Linked DNA regions of Homo sapiens: regions 2 and 3 are each reported to be linked to region 1. Evidence: microRNA targets listed by miRTarBase, many of them from high-throughput screens and not tested one by one. Region 1 holds a microRNA gene; each other region holds the end of a gene's coding sequence.
Evidence for each region. Region 1 holds the annotated microRNA hsa-miR-4322 (CUGUGGGCUCAGCGCGUGGGG, at 1,668-1,688, shown strand). A microRNA usually pairs through its seed, bases 2 to 8, with sites in the 3' UTR of a target mRNA and lowers its output. Matches are read on the target gene's strand: a 7mer-m8 pairs with bases 2 to 8, a 7mer-A1 pairs with bases 2 to 7 and ends in A, and an 8mer does both.

Region 1 (3,350 bases):
CCTGAAATGGAACAGGAGGGACAAGTGATGGGGTTTGGAAGGAAGGGAAGAGAGATAGACTCAGACGACTGTTTGTCTGGAGATTAGGAGAGGGGAAGGATGGAGGAAGCCTCAGTGGCTTCCAAGGTCCTCTCCACCCACTCCCAGTTCCAGAAAGGCAGGCCCTGTGGTTACAGTTCCCCCTGGTCACCCATGGAGCCCGTGGTAGCCACCCTACCTTTTGGTTTCTCTGTGGTTGTCAGGACCCCCTACCCTGCCATTCTCTACCAAGCAGCCAGGGGGAGCTTTTAAACTTGTAACTCCATGTCACTCCCCAACTCCAAATTCTTCCATGGCTCCCTATAGCCCAAGTAGGATGGCCCCTGCCGATGAAGCCTCCTCCCACTCTTCCCCCAGGGCCATTCCACTCCAACCACACTAAACCTCCTCCATGCTACCCCTACCCCTACCTCCAAGCCTTTACCCCTGCTGTTCTTCTTGGGGCACACTCTTTTTCTCAAAAAAAAAATTTTTTTTTTTTGAGACAGAGTCTCACTCTGTTGCCCAGGCTAGAGTGCAGTGGTGTGATCTCGGCTCACCACAACCTCTGCCTCCTGAGTTCAAGCGATTCTCCTGCCTCAGCCTCCTGAGTAGCTGGGATTATAGGTGCCTACCACCACACCTGGCTAATTTTTGTATTTTTAGTAGAGATGGGGTTTCACCATGTTGGCCAGGCTGGTCTGGAACTCCTGACTTCAGGTGATTCACCTGCCTAAGCCTAGGAAAGTGCTGGGATTACAGGCGTGAGCCACCACGCCTGGCCTTTCCTCAAATCTTTGAATGACTGTCTCCCCATCTTTCAGAAAGGCAGGCCCTGTGGTTACAGTTCCCCCTGGTCACCCATGGAGCCCGTGGTAGCCACCCTACCTTATAGAAAGTGACCTTTCTATTTAAAGGTCACTTCCTCAGAGGGGACTCCCCTGACCCCCAGTCTACAATAGCAGCCATCTCCAAGCCTTTTCTAATCACAGAATCTCGTTTTATTATCTGCACAGCGCTTGCCACTATGGGAAACTATCATGATATCTTTCCTTTTCTGTCTGGCTTCCACCTAGACAGTCAATGCCTAAGGCCAGGGAGCAAGTCAGTTATCAGCCCCTACAGGGATGCCTGGCACAAATAAAACACTCAGAAAACGTGTGGAATGGGCAAATGAATGAATGAATGAATGAACCAATGAACAAAGGAGACCCTAGTGGGTTCCCAAGGGTGGAAACTCCTAAGCTCAGCCCAGACCCAAACAGCAACAAAGGAGCCTGGAGACACCTCTGGTCCGCGGGCAGCGCCCCCATCGCCCACCATCAACCAGGCAAAGCCCAGCGTGTCTCCATGGAGATGGCAGCAGGACCCGACCCCGTGCTGGCCCGCACTCTCGGCCTCCTTATCTGGTTTAGGAATGCGCGGTATCCACGCTCGCTCGCGCGGGAGCCACGCCTCCTCTCCCCCCCGCCCCCGAGACCGCCACACGCGCGGGGCCCCCACGTCTCCAAGCGGCACTGGAAGGATTCCTCTCCGTCCCGCCAGGGGTCCCGCCTCGAGATTCTGGGAAGACTGGGGGTGGGGGACCAGATCGCAGCAGCAGCTGCACCGCGAGTTCCGCGCCTGGCCGTGTCGCCCCACGAGGGGGACTGTGGGCTCAGCGCGTGGGGCCCGGAGCATCTGACAAGGACAGAGACAGAGGAGGGGGTGGAAATCCCCGGGTGAGTCAACCCGTGCCTGAGAAGGGGGCGAGTTCCGACGCTCCGCCCGGCTCGGGGCCACGCGAGGTCCGCGCCACGCGCGCCTTCACCCACGACCCATCCCTGAGCCGGAGTTGAAAGAGGAGGCGTCTGAGCCACGCAGTCACTTTCTCTTTCCTTACAAAACAAAGCCACGCCCCCCGCCGGGGGACCGGAGGAGGCAAACAACTTGGGGAAACCGAGGCAGAAAGCCCGACGTCCGACCGCCCTCCCCGTGGGTGCCGCCCCTTGGCTTGGAGGCTCCACGGCGCGCACATCCTTTTGCCCTCGCTCAGCCGGAGTCAGCCAGGAGGGGTGTTGCCCCCCCCCAAACACACTCCCCAAGACCCCGGTCCCCGAGCACGGCGTCCTGCCTCCCAAAGACTCCAGTCGAAAGCGCTCGGATTCAGCCTTCTCCCCGGCGCCAACTTCCTGCCGCTGAGAAAGGCGGGGAGCACAGTCTGCGGGTTCGCGGCCGAGGCAGTGGGGGCCGCCCGGATTCTTGGAGAGGGCGCACTGTGACCACCCGCTCCGTGCAGCAGGAACCCAGGCGGCGCGTGCGCGCCCCAGCCCCCCGATTGGGGCCCCTCAGCTCGGATCCCGAGACCTCAGGGGACCAGGCCCGCCTTTTCTGCCTCCTTGTCGCCACGCGCGCTCACCTGGCTAGGCCGGCCCGGCTCCCGGCCCTGGCCGGAGGGGCCTTGGCGTCTGCGTCCCCAGGGCGGCCGCGGCTGGGGCTGGGGTTGCCAGCCGGGCTCGGCTAAGTCCCGGGGCTGGGACGAGGGACAGAGGGGGGGGCGGAGAGCCGCCGCCTCTGCCCCCCGCTCGCCCCGCCCTCCTCTCCTCCCCTTTCCGGCGGCGGCTGCAATGAATTCCAGATGTGACCGGCCGGCTGGCCGGGGCGCACGCGGGGGCCGACAGGAGCTGCACGGAGGGCCCTTTGTCCGCCCCCCCCACCCGATCTCTCACTCTGCCCCTCCCAGCCCCCACCCGTGAGAACCGGCCGGCGCGAAACGTCACGCAGCCTGGTGACGTCACAGTACTCCTGGCCAGGTGGCCTCAACCTGAAACAACTGTCTTCAACCCCAGGTTACCTCTGGGCTTACCCCTGGGACCCTGGACTTGGAAGAAAACACGAGGTCACATTTATTGACTCAACAAAGAGCCTTGGAAGTACCTACTAGGTGTCAACGCAGCAAATAGGCATTAAGTGCCTACTGTGTGTCCACCCAACAAATAAATTCCTACTAAGTGCGATGTCCTGTCCCAAAGACAAAATTGATCTCTTTTTTTTTTTCTTTTTTTGAGACATGGTCTTGCTCTGTCATCCAGGCCAGAGTGTGGTGGCTCAATCATAGCTCACGGGAGCCTCAGCCTCCTGCCTCAGCCTCCAGAGTAGCTGGGACTACAGGTGCGCCATCATGCCTGGCTAATTTTTTGCAGTTTTTTGTAGAGATGGGGTCTCGCTGTGTTGCCCAGGCTGGTCTTGAACTGCTGCATTCAAGCAATCCTACTGCCTCAGCCTCCCAAAGTGCTGGAATGACAGGCGTGAGCCACTGTGCCTGACCAGTCTCTCCCTTGATAGGACCTCCA
Region 2 (3,000 bases), not on the chromosome of region 1:
CAGGGTCTCACCATGTTGCCCAGGCTGGTCTCAAATTCCCTCCTGGGCTTAAGCAATCCTCTTACCTCAGCCTCCTGCATAGTTGGGATTACAGGCACGTGCCACTGCACGCAGCTGACTCATTTCTTTCTTTTGCTTCTTTCCCACTCAGATATGATGGTAATTCCCTGCTAAGTAGCATTGAATGTTATGACCCTATCATCGACAGCTGGGAAGTCGTGACATCCATGGGAACCCAGCGCTGTGATGCTGGTGTTTGTGTTCTCCGCGAGAAGTGACCATTGTTGGAGCACCATCCAGAGCTAGTGACCAGTCCAGTGGACAGTTAGTGGGAGAATCAAAAATCCTTTCCAGAATGTCTGTTTCTCACTATGTGCACCGGGTGATTACAGGCACCAGTGCAGTGATGATTGTACTTATTTGACACATACTCCCCGTCGTCCTGGTTCTTGTTCCTGAGAAGGGTGGGTAACAGATATTCCAGGAAAAAGAATGCACATTGAATGGATGTGAGAGACCACATTGCCTCTCCCACTGCTTTGGGGAGCACTTTCCTGTCATTTCTAACTTACCACATGCTTGGTGTACTATATGTATGTTGTGCCTCATATGTTGCAAAGAACTAAGGTGAGTATAGCCTACTAGATATGGGCAATATCCAGCCTAGATGATTGGAAAGATACCAGTTTAAGTAAACTTGGTAAAATCCAAGTCTTTTTTTTTTTTTCCAGGAACAACTACATTTTCTCATATACAGGTAGCTAGGGGCAACACAGTTCCATTCTAGAGGGAAACAAAAGGGAGAGCCCCACAAAACTTTGGGGACAAGGGAGAGAGAGACTCATCTGACACTTCTTTTGGAGGTCAGGATTTGTATATCAGAATTGAAGTTAGAATTAAGTGAATTAAACTGAATTTGATTGTGAGTGAACCTAGAACAGCACTGAAGTATTACATAACCTGGAAGACTGAGAAGGGTATATTATTTGAAGGATCTTTTTATTTCCCCGAGGTCTTTCGCACTGGAGACAGCATAAAAGAGTGAACAAATGTTGGGATGAGAGAAGATGACATCAATGTGGGAGTTCAGTATAACTGGGGATAAACTAGAAGAACCTGTGATTTTACAGTCATCTTATTACCTGCCAGGGCTCATCTAGCCATGGCAATGTTTGCCTTGAATGGGGGTGAAAGCCTTTCTTTGTTGGATCAAATACTACTACACTATTACACTTCCACACTATTTATTTGGGGATGGGCTGGGAGTGACAGTAGCCTAGTAGTTCAGCTACCTGATTACTGCCCCATTCTTTTAGAAGCACATGTCTGCCAAGGAGTGGTTTGTACTGCTGTGTTTGGTACATCTAGTCTTTTTTCTGCTATAAGTTTTCCTTACCTGTCCTTTAGTGTAGATTTTATTCATCACAGGACAGAATAATCAAGGACAACCAAAATCCTTTTGTTAGTTTCAGTACCTCAGCTATCAACATTTCTGAGCTACCATTCAATGTTCCTCTGTGTCATGGAGTGAAATTCTTGTTTTGTGGGTATTAGGAGTGTGGGAATGTGATAACCTAAACAACCTTTGCTCTGAAATTCCATTTTTCCCTCTTTCCCTGAGTTGTATTGACCTACAGAGTTAATTTCCTTTGTATTTTTTTAAGAAAATATTAAAAATCAACGGTCTCAAATGCCGAGAGTTTGTGGCTAACCAACATTGCCTTTAGTAGATATTTGGGAGGGAAAGATGTAGGGATCAGCCGTAGCTCCTGTCTCTTCAAGCTGTTCATCTTGTGTGTTTGCCAACTAGTTCCGCTATTTCTATGTTAGACACAGGTAAGAGGTAGCCACTTTACACTTTGGAGATTCTCATCAGTAAAATATTTACCTGATTTGCCATATTCATTAGCCCCTCTGACGCTTGGAGTTACTTGAAAAAGGAATACAGAAAAGATCTTGAATTCACTTAGCACGCGCTTGAATTTCAGGGTTTCAGTCACACCAGTCCTTTTTTCCATTTGCTTTGAATTGTGGCATGTGATATAAACAGCTATGCGGAAGGCCTGCAAAACTGAAACAGTCCTGATGCTTCCAGAGCAAAAGGAAGGAGGAGCCACATGAGGAAGTTATTTTCCTTAAAAGATGCCTACCAACTTTGGCAGATGGATTGTGCATGCTAATTAAACCAAAGCCTATAAAACGTGACTTTTCCTATCTCAGGAAGAGATCCAGGGGAGGGTGAAGGACTGATGGCTCCTATGCTGTCTTCAGTGCTGACTAATGAGTTTCAGACCAACTTCACAAATAGTTCATACACTGAAGCCACAATGGTATGTTCTACAGAAAAATCAACACGTAAAACAGCTCCTTTTTCACTCTTCACAATCGTACACACTTTCATGTGCTCACATACATACACAGAGATACCCCTAATTTGGTGGTTCATCTTATTTTTTTAAGCTCCCATAACTGGCAACCAGCTACTTAGTTATCTAACCTGGGAAAACCAGCAGTTGCTTTGTGTCACCCCCATCACAATACAGACATCCAGCTAGTTTCTAAGTTCTGTACAATTTTAATTGTTTCAAGTCCATTCCCATATCTTTGTTCCCTCTGCTAGCTTCAGGGCCTTTCTGAGCTAGACTGATGAGGTAATAGCTACCTGATACCTTACCTCTACTCTTTTTCCTCTCTTCAATCTAGCCCCTCTATTTATTCATAGGTTATCTTTCTGAAGCACAGATAGGATCATTACAGTGCTTAACATACAGCAGACAGTAAATATCGAACAGTTATTTCTGGCCTAAAATTCCACAGATTCCCATTGTTCATGTTATTAATGTTAAATTCCTTAGCATGACATTAAAGCCATGGAGCTCTGGGCCCACTCTGCCTTACCTACCTCTACTACCACTTCTCCCCACGTGTAATGTGGGTCAGCCACAGTGGTCTACTAACCATTCCTAAATTTGTTCTCACCCTTGTTCATATATAATACTG
Region 3 (3,350 bases), not on the chromosome of region 1:
GCAATGTTGTTACCTCTTGAAACATGTTCGCTTGAACCGTTTGCTGTTGGGTGGATGGGGTTTGGGAGTTGGGCGGGGGAATGACCTGTTTGAAAATAATTTTGGGTGCTAATTTCTGGGACCCATGTTCATTTTCTGTCTCTCTCTTTCGTTTTTCTATCAGGACCAGTATGTTTTCCTCAATCAGTGTGTTTTGGATATTGTCAGATCCCAGAAAGACTCAAAAGTAGATCTTATCTACCAGAACACAACTGCAATGACAATCTATGAAAACCTTGCGCCCGTGACCACATTTGGAAAGACCAATGGTTACATCGCCTAATTCCAAAGGAATAACCTTTCTGGAGTGAACCAGACCGTCGCACCCACAGCGAAGGCACATGCCCCGATGTCGACATGTTTTTATATGTCTAATATCTTAATTCTTTGTTCTGTTTTGTGAGAACTAATTTTGAGGGCATGAAGCTGCATATGATAGATGACAAATTGGGGCTGTCGGGGGCTGTGGATGGGTGGGGAGCAAATCATCTGCATTCCTGATGACCAATGGGATGAGGTCACTTTTTTTTTTTTTCCCCCTTGAGGATTGTGGAAAACCAGGAAAAGGGAGCTATGATTTTTTTTTCCAAAACAATTTCTTTTTTAAAAAAGACTATTTTATATGATTCACATGCTAAAGCCAGGATTGTGTTGGGTTGAATATATTTTAAGTATCAGAGGTCTATTTTTACCTACTGTGTCTTGGAATCTAGCCGATGGAAAATACCTAATTGTGGATGATGATTGCGCAGGGAGGGGTACGTGGCACCTCTTCCGAATGGGTTTTCTATTTGAACATGTGCCTTTTCTGAATTATGCTTCCACAGGCAAAACTCAGTAGAGATCTATATTTTTGTACTGAATCTCATAATTGGAATATACGGAATATTTAAACAGTAGCTTAGCATCAGAGGTTTGCTTCCTCAGTAACATTTCTGTTCTCATTTGATCAGGGGAGGCCTCTTTGCCCCGACTCCGCTTCCCCTGCCCCCTGTACATTTGTGCTCCATTTTTTCTTCCCTTTTCCCTCCCAGTTTTCTCCAAAGACTCTTCTGTTGGCAACATTTTCAACCCATTGGTTGGGTGAGAATGGCGACTCAAATATCACCTTGAGAATTTCTGTGGGTGGGAATGGGAGAAGCAGAGGAATCCTACAGTGGCAGAAATCCTTTTCTTGTCCCTGTATTATCCTTTTTCTCATGTCTGTATTTGGTATGAAGGATTATTTAAAGGTGCAATATGTGAATTAGTGATTCATGATGTTCTAGGTTTTTAGTAACGTTTTACTCAGGTTGGCATTTTATGTGTCTGTGTCTGTATGTGTGTGTGTATGTTCAGAAGCGTGGCAATCTGTGAACACTTCAGCGTGAATTCAGTGTCAGATTAATCCCTCCTTCCCCAAAGTCCACTGGCTTTCGTCTCTCTCTGCCGTGACACATATCGGAATCTACTGTGTATATATATATATATATATATATATATATATATATATATATATATATACACTAAGCTCTCAAAAACAGTCATTCCTATGAATTGAGGTGTACAAAGTTTGAATTTGTATCAAAGATGTAATTATTATTTTTAAAACCTTTTCACTATACTGCTGCTGTAATTACTTTGATTTTTAAAATGTAGATTAATTTTTTTTTTTTTGCTTCAGGTGTGTATCCACCAAGAATTTCAAATTTATGTGGATTTATTTTATTGGTACATAATCTGTAAACTTCTTAAGGCATTAACATGAAAAGATTTTTTCTTTTTATTTTATATTGTGGCTCAGGTTATATTTTGAAGATGTTTTGAGTTTATCCTCCAATAGGCAATGAAGTTGACAAGGTTTTATGAAGGAATAACCAAGTCCCTGGAGTCCTGTGGCTGTTGCCACAGTAATGTGTCCTGCTGTAAACAGGACAGGTGTGTCCTGTTGAGAATGTGAGCGGGCTCTTCCAGCCTCCTGGTCCCTCCTGACTCTGCCACGCCCCTCACCTCACTGGCACTTCGATAACTGACTGGACGTGTTAATGGGTCTTTTAGGGTTCTAAAGGGTGAACCACACTTTTAAAGCCCCGGCTGTGGTTCGGAGGGTTAGTGCTGTATGCCTTTTATTTCCCTTTCCCTTTGAGGTACTGAAAGGATGAAAAGGTGGTGTCATGTTTTGGGGAGAATCTTACTTCTCAAATGGAAATTGCACTTTTTGCTGAATCCTTTGCATTTTTTTGGTAGTAAGCAGTTCATTGAGTATCAGGTCCTCAAAGGAATGAGTTGGCCCGGCTAGGGTGGGCCCTCTTGACCTAACTTCAGAGGGGGCCTTGGCTCAGTAGGTGTGAATCAGGGAAGCCACATTGTCCTCAGGGTGCTGTATGAAGCTGGGTGTGGGCGGATTCCTCCCACACCTTCACACTGGCCTGCCTCCAACTCATACAGATCTCGGAGCGGTCGGTACTTCATTCATAGGTCCCTGTTCAGGCAGCAGTTCTGTGGGCTGTGGCCCTCTCCCCTCCAATATGTCCGAAACCATTGTGATGGGTGGCAAATCCCAGGGAGCTCCTAAGCCCTGCTCTGCCCACATCACTGCCACAGAGAAGTCAGAGGAAGGGACTTGTTGCTAAAAAATCCTTTAAAAGGTTAAATACTTTAAAAGATTAAAGCAACATAACTGTAAACATATTGTATAAAAATGAAAAACACAGGAACCCTCTTCCCTTCCGCCTGGTGTGGGCTTGGGAAATGGGCAAGCGGCCCCAGCAATCATGGGAGGAACTCTTGCGGGGGAGCGGTCTGGGATTCCAAATGGGCAGGTCACACGAAGGTCACGATGCTTCTCTGCATCCTGAAAAGGGCTGGGGACAGGGCCAGTGGGGGTGGTAAGGGTATTTATAGCACAGTGCTTGAAAAGGGAAGATTAATGTGTAAATATAAAGGACACACAGGCTGGGGGTTGGTCAGAGGCAAGAGGAGGGTGCCTCTGAGCTTCAACCCCTCCCAGGAACAATGAGCTCAAATTGGAAGAGTCCAGTGGAATCGGGGGGATGGTGTGAGCACCCCTGTTCAGTCTTTGACAATTGCATACAGAAAAGCAGCTGGTATGGGTTTGGGTGTCAATGAAAGGGCCAAAGACTGGTGGCCAGCTGGTTTGGGGGATTTGGGCCATTGATAGCATCTCCCAGGAACAACGACTTTTTGCCTCCAAAGTTGGATCTAGTGATGATCAGCACCAGCAGGAAATGACATTTGGTGTCTGCCCACTGCAGCCATACTGTGACCTCCAGCCAGACTTCCGCCTAATTGACTCCACTGGATTTGTGCTC

Region 2: miRTarBase lists KLHL12 as a target of hsa-miR-4322. Seed matches in the 3' UTR shown: 7mer-A1 at 808-814.
Region 3: miRTarBase lists PTPRJ as a target of hsa-miR-4322. Seed matches in the 3' UTR shown: 7mer-m8 at 2,604-2,610.

The regions. Positions count from the first base shown.
Region 1 is chr19:10,228,788-10,232,137 of GRCh38, forward strand. It overlaps MIR4322 (microRNA 4322), which reads left to right and starts at 1,626; the gene lies at 1,626-1,698. S1PR2 (sphingosine-1-phosphate receptor 2) reads right to left here and starts at 2,544. Exons shown (of 2, transcript NM_004230.4): 1 at 2,417-2,544. RefSeq lists enhancers at 1,039-1,088, 1,169-1,248, 1,188-1,902, 3,049-3,098 and silencers at 1,429-1,478, 2,189-2,848.
Region 2 is chr1:202,889,811-202,892,810 of GRCh38, reverse strand. KLHL12 (kelch like family member 12) reads left to right here. Exons shown (of 12, transcript NM_021633.4): 12 at 152-1,691. The coding sequence ends at 278. Among named protein-coding and RNA genes, the nearest start is that of RABIF, 2.2 kb to the right of the region's middle.
Region 3 is chr11:48,167,041-48,170,390 of GRCh38, forward strand. PTPRJ (protein tyrosine phosphatase receptor type J) reads left to right here. Exons shown (of 25, transcript NM_002843.4): 25 at 164-3,350. The coding sequence ends at 322. Among named protein-coding and RNA genes, the nearest start is that of OR4B1, 48 kb to the right of the region's middle.